Linked DNA regions of Homo sapiens: region 2 is linked to region 1. A link means that fine-mapping ties the variant in region 1 to the expression of a gene that starts in the linked region. Tissue or cell type: unexposed skin. Region 1 holds a variant in brackets; the other region holds the start of a gene. All regions are shown on one strand. Distances are between the middles of the regions.

What was found. PIP is the estimated chance that this variant, and not a neighbour inherited with it, causes the effect.
Region 2: it holds the start of CLDN16, and the variant in region 1 is fine-mapped to the expression of CLDN16 in unexposed skin (GTEx, PIP 0.97).

What each region holds. Positions count from the first base shown.
Region 1 is chr3:190,317,770-190,325,953 of GRCh38, forward strand. It overlaps CLDN1 (claudin 1), which reads right to left and starts at 4,677. Exons shown (of 4, transcript NM_021101.5): 1 at 4,215-4,677. The coding sequence starts at 4,437. It also overlaps a transcript of CLDN16 not described here. RefSeq lists a silencer at 4,668-4,827. The variant C/T (reference allele first, on the strand shown) is at 4,859.
Region 2 is chr3:190,383,995-190,392,178 of GRCh38, forward strand. CLDN16 (claudin 16) reads left to right here and starts at 4,169. Exons shown (of 5, transcript NM_006580.4): 1 at 4,169-4,449. The coding sequence starts at 4,336. RefSeq lists a silencer at 306-600 and an enhancer at 2,426-2,720.

The sequences.
Region 1 (8,184 bases):
CTACATGCAGGCTTTGGACTCTCAGATACTGTATTCTTGATCGGTATTGGTTGAAAGAAATCCACCTATAAGTGGACACTTGCTGTTCAAACCTGTGTTGTTCAAATGTTGACTGCAGATTCCAATTCTCCCTTTGCATCTGTAGTTGCTTAATAAGTATTAAGTGAATAAATGAACTGATGATTGGGTGACTAGAACAAAAATATTGTGCTTCCTTCTCCCCTGCAATTAAATGAGCTCAACACAGACAGTCACAGAAGTGTACTCCCCTGGCTTTTCTCCATATTAAATCTTTTACTTTTACGGAAGTTCAAAGTTTCATAAAAGTCCTAATCATTAGCATTTCCCTCTTATTGGTGCATGAGGTGATGGTCACCAGATGTGAACTCAGAACATAAGCAAAATCAGGAGTGAAAATGATCCTGGATGAGGCAGGATGTACCACTTTTCAGGATGTCCTCAGAAGTTTTGCTACCTTTCTTGTTTGTGTGTTTCTTCAAGAAATTTTCTCAGAATTAAGTTGATGCTTCTATATTACCTCCATTATATTTCCTTAATCACTCCAATTAAGGAAACCTAAGCTATGTGACTTGCCTCTTCCCCTTCAATCACTGAAGTAATAACAAAGAATTCTGGCACTGGAAGGAATCTTAGAACTCATCTTAGCTGCACCATCCTTAGCAGCAAGAATAGGGCCTAGCTTGCATCTGTTGAATGGATAAACGAATCATAGATTCATCTCCCCATTCCTCCCACTCTGCCCTATTTTATAAGTGGGGTAACTACTTGAAACCAGGGAGATCAAGTGGCTCACCATTATACACTTGGCTACTTAGTGCCAAACCACAGTAAGAACAGAGAATTTCTGATCTCAAGCCTGGATTTTTGCTTCAACTTCCATTATTCTAAGAGTCAGAACTAATTTATGAAGTATATCTGAACACCAATGGCCCTTCGAGTACCCTCGGTTCAGCAGGCACAACGCATCTGGAGAAGCATAAATAGGTGCCCTCCTCTCCACTTAGGCTTCAAAGACTGTCCACGTCAGTGATTTTGTCTCTCTGATTGAGCCTGACATCATGGTGAGAGTGCTGGGGAAGCTCACAGCCACCAATACTCATTAAGCACACCTACACACATGTGGATTCATGCAAAGCAAGTTAAACAGGCTAGAGGAGCTTATAAACAAATTACAGAATCTCAGGGTTCGGTGAGATTGAGAGAGAGTCTAGCCTAACCTCCCATTTGTCTGGTGCTTGGATCTTCCCTACAACATTCCTTCAAAATGCTTATTTATTCTCTGCTTGCACACCTCCCACCATGCAGCCTCCTACAGCAACTCAATCTTTGGACAGCTCTAGCTATTAAAGTCAAGTAAGAAGAAGCATTTAAGCAAGCACATAAAATTGGCGCGAGCTTCCTAAAAGTTTGAGAATTAGATGAAAACAAGGCGAGAGGTACAGGTGAATCAAGAAAAGTCTACTACAACTGTATCTGGCACTTTTTGTATATTCCAACTTTCAGCTACAAGAATCCCCAGGGTCAATAAAATCACATACTTTGGATGAAATGGAAATTGTATCAGCCATTATAAAACTACAATACACAATGTGACATTTGTTTCCCCAGGAAGTGCCTCAGTTACATTTTCATAAACCGCTTGGCAAGAACTACCTAAAAGAAGAAGCCTTGCTCTATCTCATTTTGTATTTACTGTATACACTATTAGCACACTGTATTCCTTCAGATACTTTATGAAGGTCATATGCTTTTTATGACCTACCCTACATAAAGCAGGGAAACAACAGATTTTAATACTTCCCGTGCTAAAGCCCTGCATCTGGCCGGGAAGACAAGTGTGCTCTACTGGGAAAGACGGCAAGGTACAATTTCGGGAAACCCACAGCTAAGCTTTTCACCTAAACACACTTAATGAAATGCAGCTTTTTTCTGAGTGATACTGCTTAAATATACACACATAACCCTTTTCATCTCTACATGTAACAAAACTGTACCAAAACCAGCCAATGAATCACCATCCCAGATCTCTACAGCTGGTGGGCGTAAACACCACTGCTCAGGCAGAGAAATGAAGTAAGGTTTCCTGGGTTCTATCCAAAAGCATCCCGTGAGTCACGGCAGGTGAGAGGAGAACACCTGTGAGTCAAGGGTCCCTCTTCTGAGAATGGGTTTTGAGAGAAAGGCCTAAGCCACACCTTGGATAAACTATGGCTTTAAGTAAAATAAAAGTGGATTCTGATCTGGAGTTTTAAAAAAATAGGAAGACATCTCTAAAGTGTGTGTGGGGGGGTAGGTATTTAGTCCTTTCACCCTAGTTTTAAAAACTGTAATAACTACATTAACCAAAAAATGAAAGTAAAACATTTTAACACATTATCATGTGTAAGGATGATCCATTTGAGTATTTACAACATAGATCAATCTGATTTCATTTGGTCATTTCAGGAAGTTAAAAGAAAACCTATTTAAAGATGTTGAAAAGGAACTATTTTGATCAGAGGAATAAAACTGACAGTGAGACCTCTCTGGAATTGTCCTTAGAAACCTCCACCTGCCAATTCCTTAACGTGGTACCTAAAATGCCTGACACCGTTTCCTTAAATATATTTATCTTTCCATGGAGAAATTCAATAATTATTACCAAATTTTTCATTTTATAAGTACAAATATAACCCCTGAGGGCAATGAGCAACACATAATTACTAAACTTATGGATTGGTTTTGGTGTAAAGAAGTCCTGATATGAGAACCTTCAAAAGCTGAAATAATAACACTCAAAACAACCATGCACATTGACTGAGCAAATGCCACAGGTATTCAAGGTGTTCAAACAGATTTGGAACAGGTTTAATAACTCTAAACTATATGGCTTTTGATATACACTATTAAAAGTTGTCCCTTGATAGGAGGTAGACAAAACAAGTTAAGTAAACTTGAACAATGCCAACACTTTTCACCCTTAGCATGCAATGGGGGCCAGTGGGCAGTCACGTTCATCTAGGCAAAGACTAAGGGATCTTTTCTTCAAGTGAGTTAAAGGGCATAACAGACACATGATATAAGACAATTAATGTGATTTCTCAAGGAAGATACTCCAGCCGTGAATCATTATTATCTAAGTAAATGGGAATTTAATGACTTTTCGGACAAGGAACTCGAAACCTTTAATTTAAAAAACAAAGTAAAACAATTATCCTATTATCCTTCTTCCCACCATCCTTAGAAATATGTCTCTCTATACAATCCTTTCCAGTTTTACAGGGGGTCACTGAACATCCATTACACAGAAATTTCTTTGTGGAAGATGGAAACCTAAGGAAGACCCACCTCTTCTTTCTCTCTCACTGCCTTCCACTCCCAGCTGACCTCTGATTTCATCAGCTATGACTATTTTGCTGCATTTCCCTTCAGTGCCTTTACTTTTTTCTTTGTATTATGTTGCGCAGGTTATTTAGAACCTTTCTTGTCAGCCTTTCCCCACCTGCCACCAACCTTCTCTTTCCAAGATAGCACTACACCGTCAGCCTCTACAGAAGACCTTGGGTCTGAAAATTAAAACTTCGGGGGAATCTCAAGCAGCTTCTCCAAAGAGTCTTGCAAGGGGCCTCCCTGCACTAACTGGATCTTATAAATTAAAAGAATCAACCTCAAGCATAAGCAGAAGACACTTAGATAGGACATTTCCAGTAGGAATGTAACTTTTACTATGAAAAAATCATATTAAAGGTTAAAAAGTTATATCTAATACTTGAGGATTATTTATTTAAGCGTGCACACTTGAGAAGTTACCAGGCTTCAAACTTTTTCAGTCATCCCATTTTCTTGTCTGAACTCTACCAATCCTCAATTTACCCCAAATCTCGGAATGCCTAGGAGAGGTCTAAGAGCTCAAGTTCAAGTTTGGCCTTCACTCCCTCAACTCGAACCACCAGCATAGGAATTTAGGATGAAGCCACACCTAGAGTGGCAGAAGTGTCACCCAGGGAGTTAGAGGCAAAACTAGAGCTTATGCCTGGGCGTCGCTTTCCTCAAACCAGGATTCTCTTCATTTCCTTATGACAGAGCACATGATCAGAAGACTTGATCAACTGAAGACTGATAACCATGGAATCACACAACAGAATGAGCCCATAAGGGAGCTGCAGGGGGACTGGGGCCTCTGGACGGCCGCTGTGAGGTGGGGGTGCACTCACTGCTCAGATTCAGCAAGGAGTCAAAGACTTTGCACTGGATCTGCCCGGTGCTCTGCGACACGCAGGACATCCACAGCCCCTCGTACATGGCCTGGGCGGTCACGATGTTGTCGCCGGCATAGGAGTAAATCCTCCACTGGGGCAGGGCAGTGCTGACGATGGCGCCGATCCATCCCAGGAAGGCGAGAATGAAGCCCAACAGCTGCAGCCCCGCGTTGGCCATGACTCGCTCGGGCGCCCGCGCTGGCTCAGGGGTGGCAGGTGCAGAAGGCGGAGAGTTTGCAGGTGGGCAACCCGGACTCCCGAAGGTGGCTGGGCCCCGCGGAGGAAGTTAAGGCGGGGAGCCCTGCTCGCTGCGCCGCCGCTGGAGAAGCTCTGGGTCGGGGTTGGGGTCCGCGCCCGGGGCGGCGCTGGAGTCTGGATACTAGAAGCTGCGGTTGCTCCCAGGCTCGGGAACTGAGACGCAGAACCGCTGGGCGCCGCGATTTAAAGCAGCTCCGCCCGCCTCAGCCCCGGCAGCCGGGGAGCGCCCCCTGGCGGTTTCAGGGCGGCTCACCGAGAGGGCGCCGGGAGCGCCCGGTTGGGGAACGCGCGGCTGGCGGCGTGGGGACCACCCGGCAGGACCAGGCACCAGAGCTGCGTCC[C/T]TGCTCGCTTTCTCTCGTGGATCTTCTCGCTCCTGTAAGGCGTTTCACGCTTTTCATTCATTCACTCCAATTATCCAAAAATTACTATGCACTGTACTTGTAAATCCTAACACAAAGATGAAAAAATGATCCTTCAAGAGCTGCAGTTTTAGGTTTAATACTTTTTTCCCAATATCTTATTAAAAGGCATTTCTACCCAACTCCGCGTCTCCTCCCCCATCACACCATTTCTCTCTCCTTTGCTTGGCTTCCTCCCCCTTCTTTCCTCTCTCTGCTCTCTTCTGTCAAGGTCGTTCCATCACTTGTCTCTGCAAGGAGCCTCAGAGACTTTTACACTCTACAGATTGGGAAACAGACCCAGAGAGCAACATGATTTACACACACACACACACACACACACAGACACACTCACGCACGGAGCATATCCAGTACTTGGCTCCCCTCCCAATCTGCTTTCCACTACATATCAAGTTGACCCAAAATATCCCCTTTGATCTATGATTGTCCTTTTTGATGTATTATTGTCCTTATGAAACTGCAGGCTAGCAGCCCTTCCCCGCCAAACACCAACCTCCTCCCCACAGCAGTTATGTCTTAGAGCAGCAATTCATTATCAGAGGGACCTGGCCAGTGCCCCGCTCTCCCTGAAAGGTGTTAATTTTGTGAGTTATCAAATGTTGTTCGTCGCAGGTGAGGACATGTAAACAGCGTTTCCCCAGTGGCAAAAGGACTGGGCTGGAGTTGAGGAAGTCTGGGCTCTGGTTCCAGCTTTTACTGTGACTGGCTATCTCACCCCTCCGGTTTCGGTCTCGCTGGGACTGTAGTTTCCCTCTATGTTTCTCCAAAGCTTCCTTCTTTGTAGTTAGTCAGAAGTGCTGTTGTGGTTAGGAATCATTGAAATGTTTTTCCAACTGCTTTTTGTGTGTGGTGCGAGTGTGGTGGGAGGGGAAGCTTCTATGGTTTTAGTAAAAACAGAAGCATCTTGGAAGCAGAAATAAACATATTAAGGATAAAATAAGATATACCCTTATATACCATGGCAACTGCTAGTTGGTGACAGAGAAGGAAAGGTGCAAATTCTCAAGGTGGGAATGGGAAGAAAGGCCAAGCCCCACCACCTTCATTTCCACCTGGCTCTCCCTGGATGCCTTTCATGTAGGCTTAAAACTAAAGGACTTGGCCGTGCTAGGATTTAGGGACAAGCAATGAAGAATGTAAGACAGGAGCTAGATGAAGACAATTAATTTGGACTGAGATTAACACAGTGAATACTGTCTTTCTCCTATCAGCTGTTTAGGACAAGACCATGTTCGTGTTGTATCCCAGGGTTAGGGCCTGCAGTCAGTACTACTGTCTAGGTCTCAGTGGATGTTCTGTGGGTGCCTGTCAGTGTGGATGAAGATGTATCAATCACATTTGATTTTGTAAAAATTCCCTGATCAGAGAAGGCACTGGAATTTGCTGCAGGACTAGAGCAGTACCATGTGAATCATATAATCTCATTTTCTTCTTTTTTTTGTTCCAAACATTTAAGAATTAAAAGTATTATTAAACACCCGGGCACGGTGGCTCAGGCCAGGCGCAGTGGCTCACGCCTGTAATCCCAACACTTTGGGAGGCTGAGGCAGGCGGATCACTTGAGATCAGGAGTTCGAGATCAGCCTGGCCAACATGGTGAAACCCCGTCTCTACTAACAATATGAAAATTAGCCGGGCATGGTGGTGGGCGCCTGTAATTCCAGCTACTTGGGAGGCTGAGGTAGGAGAATTGCTTGAACCCGGGAGGCGGAGGTGGCAGTGAGCCCAGATCGTGCCACTGCACTCCAGCCTGGGCAACAGACCAAGACCCCATCTCAACAAATAAATAAATAAATAAATAAACAAATAAATGACATTTTCTGCGTTCAGTAAATATATTTGTGCACAGGCCCTTTTACTCTGCATTACAACTGGTTTCTATCAACCTACAATTAGCGGGGAATCGGAGGGATGAGTTCTGTGGTCAGCAGGGTCCCGTGTTTTTGTTTTGTATTTCAGGTCTGTGCGAGGCTGATTACTTCACTACCCACAACCATGTTTGTGAGGCTGAGGTGAATGCTGTTTGCTTCACTGTGATTCAGGCCCATCTCTAGGCATCCTTAATCCTGTCTAGTTTTCTGCTCCTAGCTTAAGTGCAGAGGACAGGTGAGATAATGGCTCAGCATAAATCTATCAACTTAAGAGGAAAAACAGCTTCCAAATACTGGCCTTTCATATCTGAAACATAAACAGTAAAGGCAGCACTGAGACCAAGAAGGCTCTAGAAAGGCTGGCAATGGTATGGTAAGTGTCCTAGCCTGTTGAGTAGTAAAATCTGCTATGTACCCTCAGACAAATTACTTCTTTTCTTCCTCAGTTTCCCTACCAATAAAAGGGATGGGGTTAATTTCTGAAAGTCACCCAAGTCTAAAGCTTTATGACTCTAAGTAATGACAGCTGGCACTTGTTGCTGTATATTTTCATCAAGTGTTGAGGTCAGAGTTTTATATGCTATCTCTACGTGCAGGTAACAGACACAGAGAGGTCAGGCTGCTTATCCAAGTTCATATTGAATATGGCAGCGCTGGAATTCCAAACTATATAATTTGACGCTCGTGTCCATGCCTTTGACTGCTCTCCTGCAGTATTTCTCTGTGTGACCCAAATCAATCGAGGACAATTTTTTTTTTCTTCTTTGGAAGAGCTTAGACATACTTATCATGTGTTTCTTGCTCCAGGCAGTGGCAAGATATTTTACTCTGTGACTGTCTCTTCTTAATATCTGTTGCAGCCCACTGAGGTTTTATACCCTGGGGATTTAGAATCATGTGGCAAAAAGTTGTTGCTGTTGAGGAGGAAGAGATGTGTAAAAACAGCAAATAGCGTACTGGTTTATTCCATGTGCTTGTGCGACTGATGCTTGGGCTTAGCCATGATCTTGAGAACCAATAATAAGTAGAAGAGATATACACATAAAAGACAGAAGCAAAGGTAAGACTGTGAGTGTCAGAAGAGAGTGTAGACAAAGAACCAAGCCTCTAAGAGGCAGCATGGCAGATTCTCAGAAATGGTTAATGATGACAGTATGAAAGCCATTGGGATGTTAATTTTTTTGCTTAGTGTTAATATATGTTAATGTTGACTTTTCAGAGCTTCTTAAGTGGTAAAAGCAGAACGAATGAACACATTACTAAGTAAGCAATCTGCTGTGTAATTATTTAGGGCTTGAGAAAAGGATCAGAGTACAAATATTGTATAAATTTAACATGAATTTTAGTATTAAAACATTCAGGTTACTAAAACTGCAT
Region 2 (8,184 bases), 66 kb after region 1:
ATTGACAAGAAGGCAGCCTCAGAAATGTTAACTAGCTTGCTCAAGATCTGTCATATATAAATGGGCTTAGCCTAAACTCGAGTCAGCCTGACTATGAGGTCCAAGCTTTTAACCACCGCTTTTTTTATATTAGTTATAGCTAGCATGGCCTTTCAGAACAGCAACTGATTTTATTGTTTAGATTTTTCCAATATGCACTGGAAATTTCAAAGGGAGTTAGAAGACTATTTATAGGATATGGTATAAGTCAGTTTACTCCTTCTAATAACTCTTATTATCCTAATAAATATAGAGGGAACATTTTGTGACATTAATGGAAACAACAGAACTAACACAAAAATATGCTGTTCTTGACACAAGAGCTTGCTGTTCTGTTTAACTGAAAATGCAAGGCTGCTTCCACCTGCAGACCAAAAGGACAACTGCAATACTTCCAGTTCTACAATTACTTCCTTTAATAGACCAACAGCCACGGTGCTAGATTAAGGGTGTCACTCAACTGATCGCCAGGTGGCTCTAAAGCCTCATCCAGGAGTAGTGCAAGCACTGGGTGAGTAGGAACATGGTGCATAATGAATTGACCAAACTGTTGGTCTTAGAGATCTTGCAAAATCAATAGCCCTGGAGCTGCAAAGATGATTAGGACACTTTTGCCAGCCTAGTATCCATCCTGGAGGACCCTGAATGTTTCAGAAGGGGAAAGTCCAATATTACTCCCTCTTCTGTAAAATGTGGGGGCTCTGAGAATTAAATTATTACACATTTGCTGAGAGCCTACCATATGCCAGGTAGAATTTTAAGCATGTGGGATGCACTGGTGAACGAAAGATGTCTGTCTTCACAGAGCTTAGATGAGATAATATATCTGAAAATATTTTGTAAACCTTATTGAGCAACACACAGTAATAACTTTTCTTCATGTTTATAATAAATTGGAAAACACATCATATTTCTAACTAATATGCCTATATACTCTTATTGGGAGTGGTATTATAGCTTAAGACTGTTGTCAGAATTACCTGAATGGAGTTCTTTACTTCCTGCTTCTGGTCCACTCACTGAAGAGTAAACCTCTCAAGGACTAGGATGAGTTCTTCCAACCGTTTATTTTCTCTGTGTCCCAAGAGAAAGTACTAGAGTCAGAGTACACTGTTCATAAATGTGTGCTGGATGGAATGGAATTAAACTATAAAAGAGTTGATAAACCAAAATGTTGAAGCCTAGGGAGGGTCAGAATGCAAAAGAGATGTGTCTATATAGATTGGTGAGCAGTTTATTCTGCATCTGTGCCCTCCATCCTCACAACACCCTACACATTTCTTAGAAGTGCACTCACATCCCATCCATGAAGTGTTTACTGCTCTATCAGTTTGCATGACTCTCCTTTTTGTATCTCCTATTACATTATGGCCTCACTCACAGAAATTCACATGCAAGCCTGAATGTTTTATGTTATTCTCTAAGAGTAGTAAACTTAAATTCAGGAACAATTCTATAGCCACCTGAATAATTCCCCACTCCCTATCACATACAATGTTCAGTGACCATTAGGAGCGAATGAATGCTATAGTCTAGATTTTTTTTTTTGTGAAAGAATCTATGATTTCCAGAGATATGTATGCACATGTGTGTGTTTGCATATGAGAATGCATATGCTTAGCATTTTTTGGTCTTTATTTCTTTCCATTAAGTTCTGATATTTGGATTTGGGACCTATTGGTGCTAGTTAGGGAAGAGTTTGTAGCAAAGATGGAATTCTGATACCCTCTTTTCTAAAACTTTGTCTGTGATTTGTAGTATATAACTCTTAAAAAATTGTTTTTCTTTTGTTGTTCTAAACTCATCTCTCAAAGTATGGCCATCTGTTTCAAAATCAGAATTTTATACAAAACACATGTAAAATATGAATTCCTGGCTTCCACTCCCAATTTCCTGAATCCAAATGTCTGGGAGTGGAATTCCTGGGTTTGCATTTATAACAAGTGGCCTTACAGAGTCCAGTGTACACTCAGGTTGAAGAACTACTGCCTTGGAGTGCACTGTTAGCAGGTAAAGTACACTGTGAAAAGTCCCTGTGTGAAATGTCAGCAACAAGTCCAGGACTTTTCCTGCAAAGGGCATGTGCTTTTGGAATTGGTTTGCTCTCCCAGATCAGCAGAGTAAATCTTAATAGCATTTCAGATTTTAGGGCACAGGGAAAGATTCTCTGTGACTCACCAAAGCAGCATGTTTGTATTCCGTGGGCAATGACATTCTTTGAATGAGCACTTAAAAAACAGGTATTTTTTTTCCAACTGTTAAACAAAATAAGTAAAATAAAAGCATCTGTAATGTACCTCGCAGATAGTTATAACGATCGCTAATGTGTACAGTAATCACCCCTTCTCCTTGAGGAATATGTTCAAAGACCCTCAGTGGATGTCAGAAACGAAGGACAGTACTGGATCCTACACACACTATACGCAACAGTAGGTCAGATCACCGAGGCAGCTATTAAGTGACTAAGGGGTGGGTAGTGCATACAATGTGGAAATGCTGGCCAAAGGGATGATTCATATCCCATGTGAAGTGGGATGGCTTGAGATTTCATCACGCTATTCAGAACAGTGTTCAATTTACCACTGATGAATTGTTTATCTATGAAATTTCCCATGTAATTTTTGCAGACCATGATTAACCACTGGTAACTGAAGCCTCAAAAGGGAAATTCTGGATAGCAGGGGTGGTACTGTAGACCCTATGTATAGAAATAATTAAGCTTATATTCCACCTATGGTTTTCCATGCAGCTTTTACATTTAAATTTACGTTTTATATACTTGAATAAAATGAATTAAAATTAGAAAAAACAAAGTTTAGCCACAAAAAGTTTATTATTGTAATATATTTTGAAAAATGGTTTATCAATACTGATTTTAGCCTTTTATACTGTATATTATGATCAAATAATTTTCAAATGGAAAAAAGTAATCCTTTTATAAGCTGTTGGTAAAATAAGAATCTTAGTAGCTGATTCATGCCAGAGTAATTACCTCTTTCTGGCCTTTTCTCTGCTCCTTTCTTTCTCTCCCTCCCAATTTCTTTCTCTCACTCTGTCTCCCCTTTGACATTCTCTCCTACATTAAGAATCACCACTTTGTTTTTACTGTTCTCATTCAAAATTTTTATTTTAGTATATAGAAGTCTACCTGATGAAGAGAAAATGTTGATATATGTGCTTTTTAAAGCATATTAAAGAGTATTGGTTATGGAATTTGTAGACCCATTAAGGATACCTATTCAGATACAGATAAAATTCCAGTTGCCCCAGTTACATATTAAAAACTTTTTTTTACAAAAAAGAAACACACTTTCTTCCTAATATAACAGTTTTTTTTTCTTCATTAGACGCGTTTTCAAACATTGGTCCATGAGGGAAAAGTAATAATATAGGAAATTCTTAGTCATGTTAATATTTTCCATTTAGCTATTACTGACAGATGCTATTCTAAGCGACTTACAGGCACAATATCTTTTATTCCTCATATGAAGAACAAGCATTATATAAAGAAAATATTAATACATGCATTTTCAGAAACTACAGCCCAAGGGCTCTCAGACCATAAATTCAGAGCAAGAATTTCCACCCAGAGCTGTCTGCATTAAAATGCACACTTGTTCCCACTCTACGATGCTGAAAGGTTAGGAGCCTTGGCTGTCCCTACTGCCCAGGTGCTACAAGTCCTTCATGGGGCTGTTCTACGCAACACTTTGGAATGCAGACTCCCTTGAGCGAGCACTTGTTTAGCATAGTTTCACCAGTGGCCTGTCTGTCTAAAGTAGTCGGCGAATATTAAAATAGTCCTAACAATAAAATAACACTCAGTCAACCGTGTAGCCTTCTTCCGAGTGGGGAGGAGAATAGCTCACTCTCCCTAGAGGGCCTAAGAAAGATCAGTTTACAGGTTCCAGCATGGGGTGGGACCCTTCCTCCTTCCCCCGTCTTGGCACTGGCACTTGGTCTGGTGACCACCACTAGCCCACAGTTGGGTCAGAAAACGTTACAGAACTCCTCTCTCCCCCACCCGAAACACACTCAGCCCTTGCACTGACCTGCCTTCTGATTGGAGGCTGGTTGCTTCGGATAATGACCTCCAGGACCCCACTGTTGGTTACAGCCTGTTTGTATTATTCTTACTGCAACTCAAGACACCTGCAGCAGGGCGTGAGAAAAAGTAAAAGACCAGTATTTTCACATTGCCAGGTACCAGAAACACAGAAGACTGACACCCGCCACTTAAGTGGGGCCAGGGCTGGTGTCTGCCCATGTTGCCATCCTGATGGGCTGCTTGCCACAATGAGGGATCTTCTTCAATACATCGCTTGCTTCTTTGCCTTTTTCTCTGCTGGGTTTTTGATTGTGGCCACCTGGACTGACTGTTGGATGGTGAATGCTGATGACTCTCTGGAGGTAAGAAGATAGCAGCTTCTTTTCATGATCCAGGCCAGCCCAAATTTTCGCTAAGTCCCAACTGCCATGTACAACATTCAGTATCTTTACTAAGGCTAATGATACCAAAAATAGGCAACATGGACTATTTATTGAGTCTTTACATTATTAGCTCATTTAATCCTCATAGTTAATTTATGAGGTAGGTCTTGTTATCCCATTAAACAGATGAAGTTACTAAATAGTTCCTCCTTTTTTCACAAGGATAAATTTCCACAAGGGTAATTAAGTGATCTCTGCTACTGAGACCTCCAGAAATTCACGTCTTCCATTGCTGCATATATCATATTGAGTAACATTTCAGTACCACCCTTTTTTCTAAGATAAATTTTTTACTCTTGATGACAGCATTAAGAATAGTGTGATAGACTTTTTTTAAGGAGTGTTAATAATCTAAAACGTTGAGAAAGAAAATGCAAGGCATGCAAAACCTACCCAATTAACATGCAAGAGGAAAAAACATTATCTTAATGATTTCCAAGTAAAAGAAAAAATGTTGAGGGAGAAAATGTCTTTCCAGTGCATCCCAATGTACGGGGGACAGGCATGGATTTAAATCCTCCCTTAAAATGAGTTGCTCTAGGGAACTGACTACTATTCAAAAGATGAGTGAGTGGGTTCACATTTGAGGATTTTATTTTTCTCGCTGGAGAAGCTCAGAAAGAAGTAATTTTGAAGTTCAAAACCATTACCTGTGGCCATAGGAATCTGAGAGAGGCAGAACTGAGTAAAAAATCAAATCTTCAGAATTAGCTGCTGTTCATTAATGAGGCTTAGGAAAACACAGGTAAGAAAAAGAAACAATATTTCAAGAGCTCAAAAAAAGGAGTATATAGCAAAACAATTTGCTTTTTAATGTGCATCCTGAAGGGAACAATTTACCCTAGCAAATGCTATAATGTCACCTCTATAAAGTTTAAGAAAGATACTCGACTGAGTTTATATATTTTTCTTCTAATTTTCTTTATTAAACTCTCAAATTGGAGTTCCAAATGGAAAGTAATAATGATTCTATTTTGCTGTGCATTATTTTTGCTGCTCGCTTTTTCTTGCTTTTAATTTGCCTCTGACTTGAACATGGCATTTCAAAACCAATGGAGTTAGGAATACCTCTTTAATGCTAGAAAATTACATTTCCAAAAATTGTGATAGAATTGAACTACTGTAAAGGATGTCTGCTATAAGTGAGCCCAGTGATGCATTTTATCTGGCCATGAATATATGCAAAGAATGAAATAAATGCCCTTTGAACAGTGCTCAGGGAAAAGTGCAGATAAAACGTTCTGCTGTCATTAGTTTGCCATTATCTAGATGGCCAGTGGTAGGTGATGAATACAGAAATATGTTTAACTTGAGCATAATTATAATTATGTTTTTTAAAATACAAAAAAATGTAAAATCCCATCTAGGGGCATTGTTAAAATATTTTCTAAAACAATTTAAAAGTCTTTCTGCTTAAGCTGACATAATTGCTAACTTCATTTGATAAGAAATAGTTTTAGAAAGGGTCAAACCTTGCTGAGAGAGAGATTGAGAGTCCTGGAATTTAAAGTGTCTTCTTTCATTTTAGTATAACCAACCAATTTGCCATCTGTCCCATGAAAGAATACTTCTAGTTAAAACGAATGGAATGAGCAGTCCAGGTTACACACCTCAAGTAAACCCTTGCTAACCTTGAAAAATAGTTAATATTTCTTAGCTTCCTTCTTATTTCCCATACTTAAAATGTATTGCTATAATATTCCCAAGAAGCCTTCACATTTAAAGGAAGAGGCTGGGCATGGTGGCTTATGCCTGTAATCCCAATACTTTGGAAGGCCGAGGCGGGCAGATCACAGGTCAAGAGATTGAGACCATCCTGGCCGACATAGTGAAACCCCATCTCTAACAAAAATACAAAAATTAGCTGGGTGTGGTGGCAGGGGCCTGTAGTCCCAGCTACTAAGGAGGCTGAGGCAGGAGAATCGCTTGAACTAGGGAGGAGGAGGTTGCACTGAGCCGAGATTGTGCCACTGCACTCCAGCCTGGCGACAGAGCGAGACTCCATCTTAAAAAAGAAGAAGAAGAAGAAGAACCCTGTAACAAATCCGGCTCCCTTCTCTTTCAACAATCTCTTTAGTTGTCAATATTTTTAAAGAGACAATAATCTCTTATAATAATTGCTACTTCAACAGGCCAGGATAGAAACTTATATTTTCCACAAATTTGAAGGTTCTGATGCTAGCTCAATTGCTCTTCTCTTTTCTTGCCGCCATCCTCATTTATATATCACCTTTGGTCCATATAACAACTCACTTTATGTTTTTATTTTTATTTTTTTATAGATTTGGTCTCACGCTGTCACCCAGGATAGAGTGTACTGGTGTGATCATATCTCACTGCAGATTCAAACTTCTAGGCTCAAGTCATCCTCCCACCTCAGCCTCCCTAGTAGCTAGGCCTACAGGTGCATGTCCCCACAACTGGCTAATTTTAAAAATTTTTTGTAAGAACAAGGACTTTCTCTGTTCTCTAGGCTGGTCTCCAACTCCAGGCCTCAAGTGATCCTCTTGCCTCGGCCTCCTAAAGTACTGGGATTATAGGAGTGAACCACCACAGCAGCTCACTTTAATCCATTGTTGGACAAAAGTCAACGAAACAAGTGTTTTGTTTTGTTTTGATTTTTTAAGAAAAAAAAGGAATACCAATAGACAATTTAAATAAGAAGGAGTATTATACTTTTCCAGTTTTTTTTTTTTTTTTTAGTATATTTGGATGATGTTGGCACGGGATTTAGAAGAAGAGTTTTGTGGTTCAATTCAGTATAAAAATATATACAATTATATCATATAAAAGGAATGATGCTACTCCTACTAGAAGAGACAAAGATAAAGCAAAAATTGCTCCTGCCTCTCAGGAGTGCACATTTAATGAGGGGAAAACAAAGATACACATGAAACTATAATAAAAAGCATAAATAAATTCATATTTTGAGCAAGAAATAAACGAAGTATCATTGGGGAAGAAAATATGCGATGATTACTTCCTATCAGGGCCATCGAAGCAGGTCTCATGAAAGAAAAGGCATTTGAGCAAAGCCTTGAAACGATGTAAAGCATTTCAAATTGTAGAAATGGCAGCAGGGGCCTTTCAGATAAGGGGACAGAGTGGCAAAAGTGCAAAGAGAGGAGAAGCTCAGGGCTTGTTAGAGGACTAAAGTGGGCAACACAAAGAAGGAGGCAGAAAAAGCTCAGATATTCTTTTTGCCTACCACACTCTACCTATCTCAAATGAAGTTCTTCGTATTAGGTAAAAATGCTAGGAAAGAAAATAGCACACAGAATTACGATGTGCACAACCCTACATCAGTGACTAGAGGCCCTCAGCTACCATCCTGCTCTTGTCATTATTGATTCATTTGTGTCTCTGAGAAGACTGATAGGGAGAAGAGAATTTGGGTTTTGAGATTTTTCAAGCGTATGTTTGCATCTTAACCCTTATTAACTGCCTTCTATTAAGCAAGTCACATTTCTTGTCTTTGGCTCAGTTTTTTCAATTGTATAGTTGAACTCAGTTGTTTCTAAGGTCCTTTTCAGTCTTTTTTTTTTTTTTTTTAACATCATGTCTCCATGACTGTCTGAAACTTCAGAGAGTTGGACACTCACTAATGGACTGGTGGTGTCTGGCACTTCTCCAGACATTTCCATTGGGAATCTA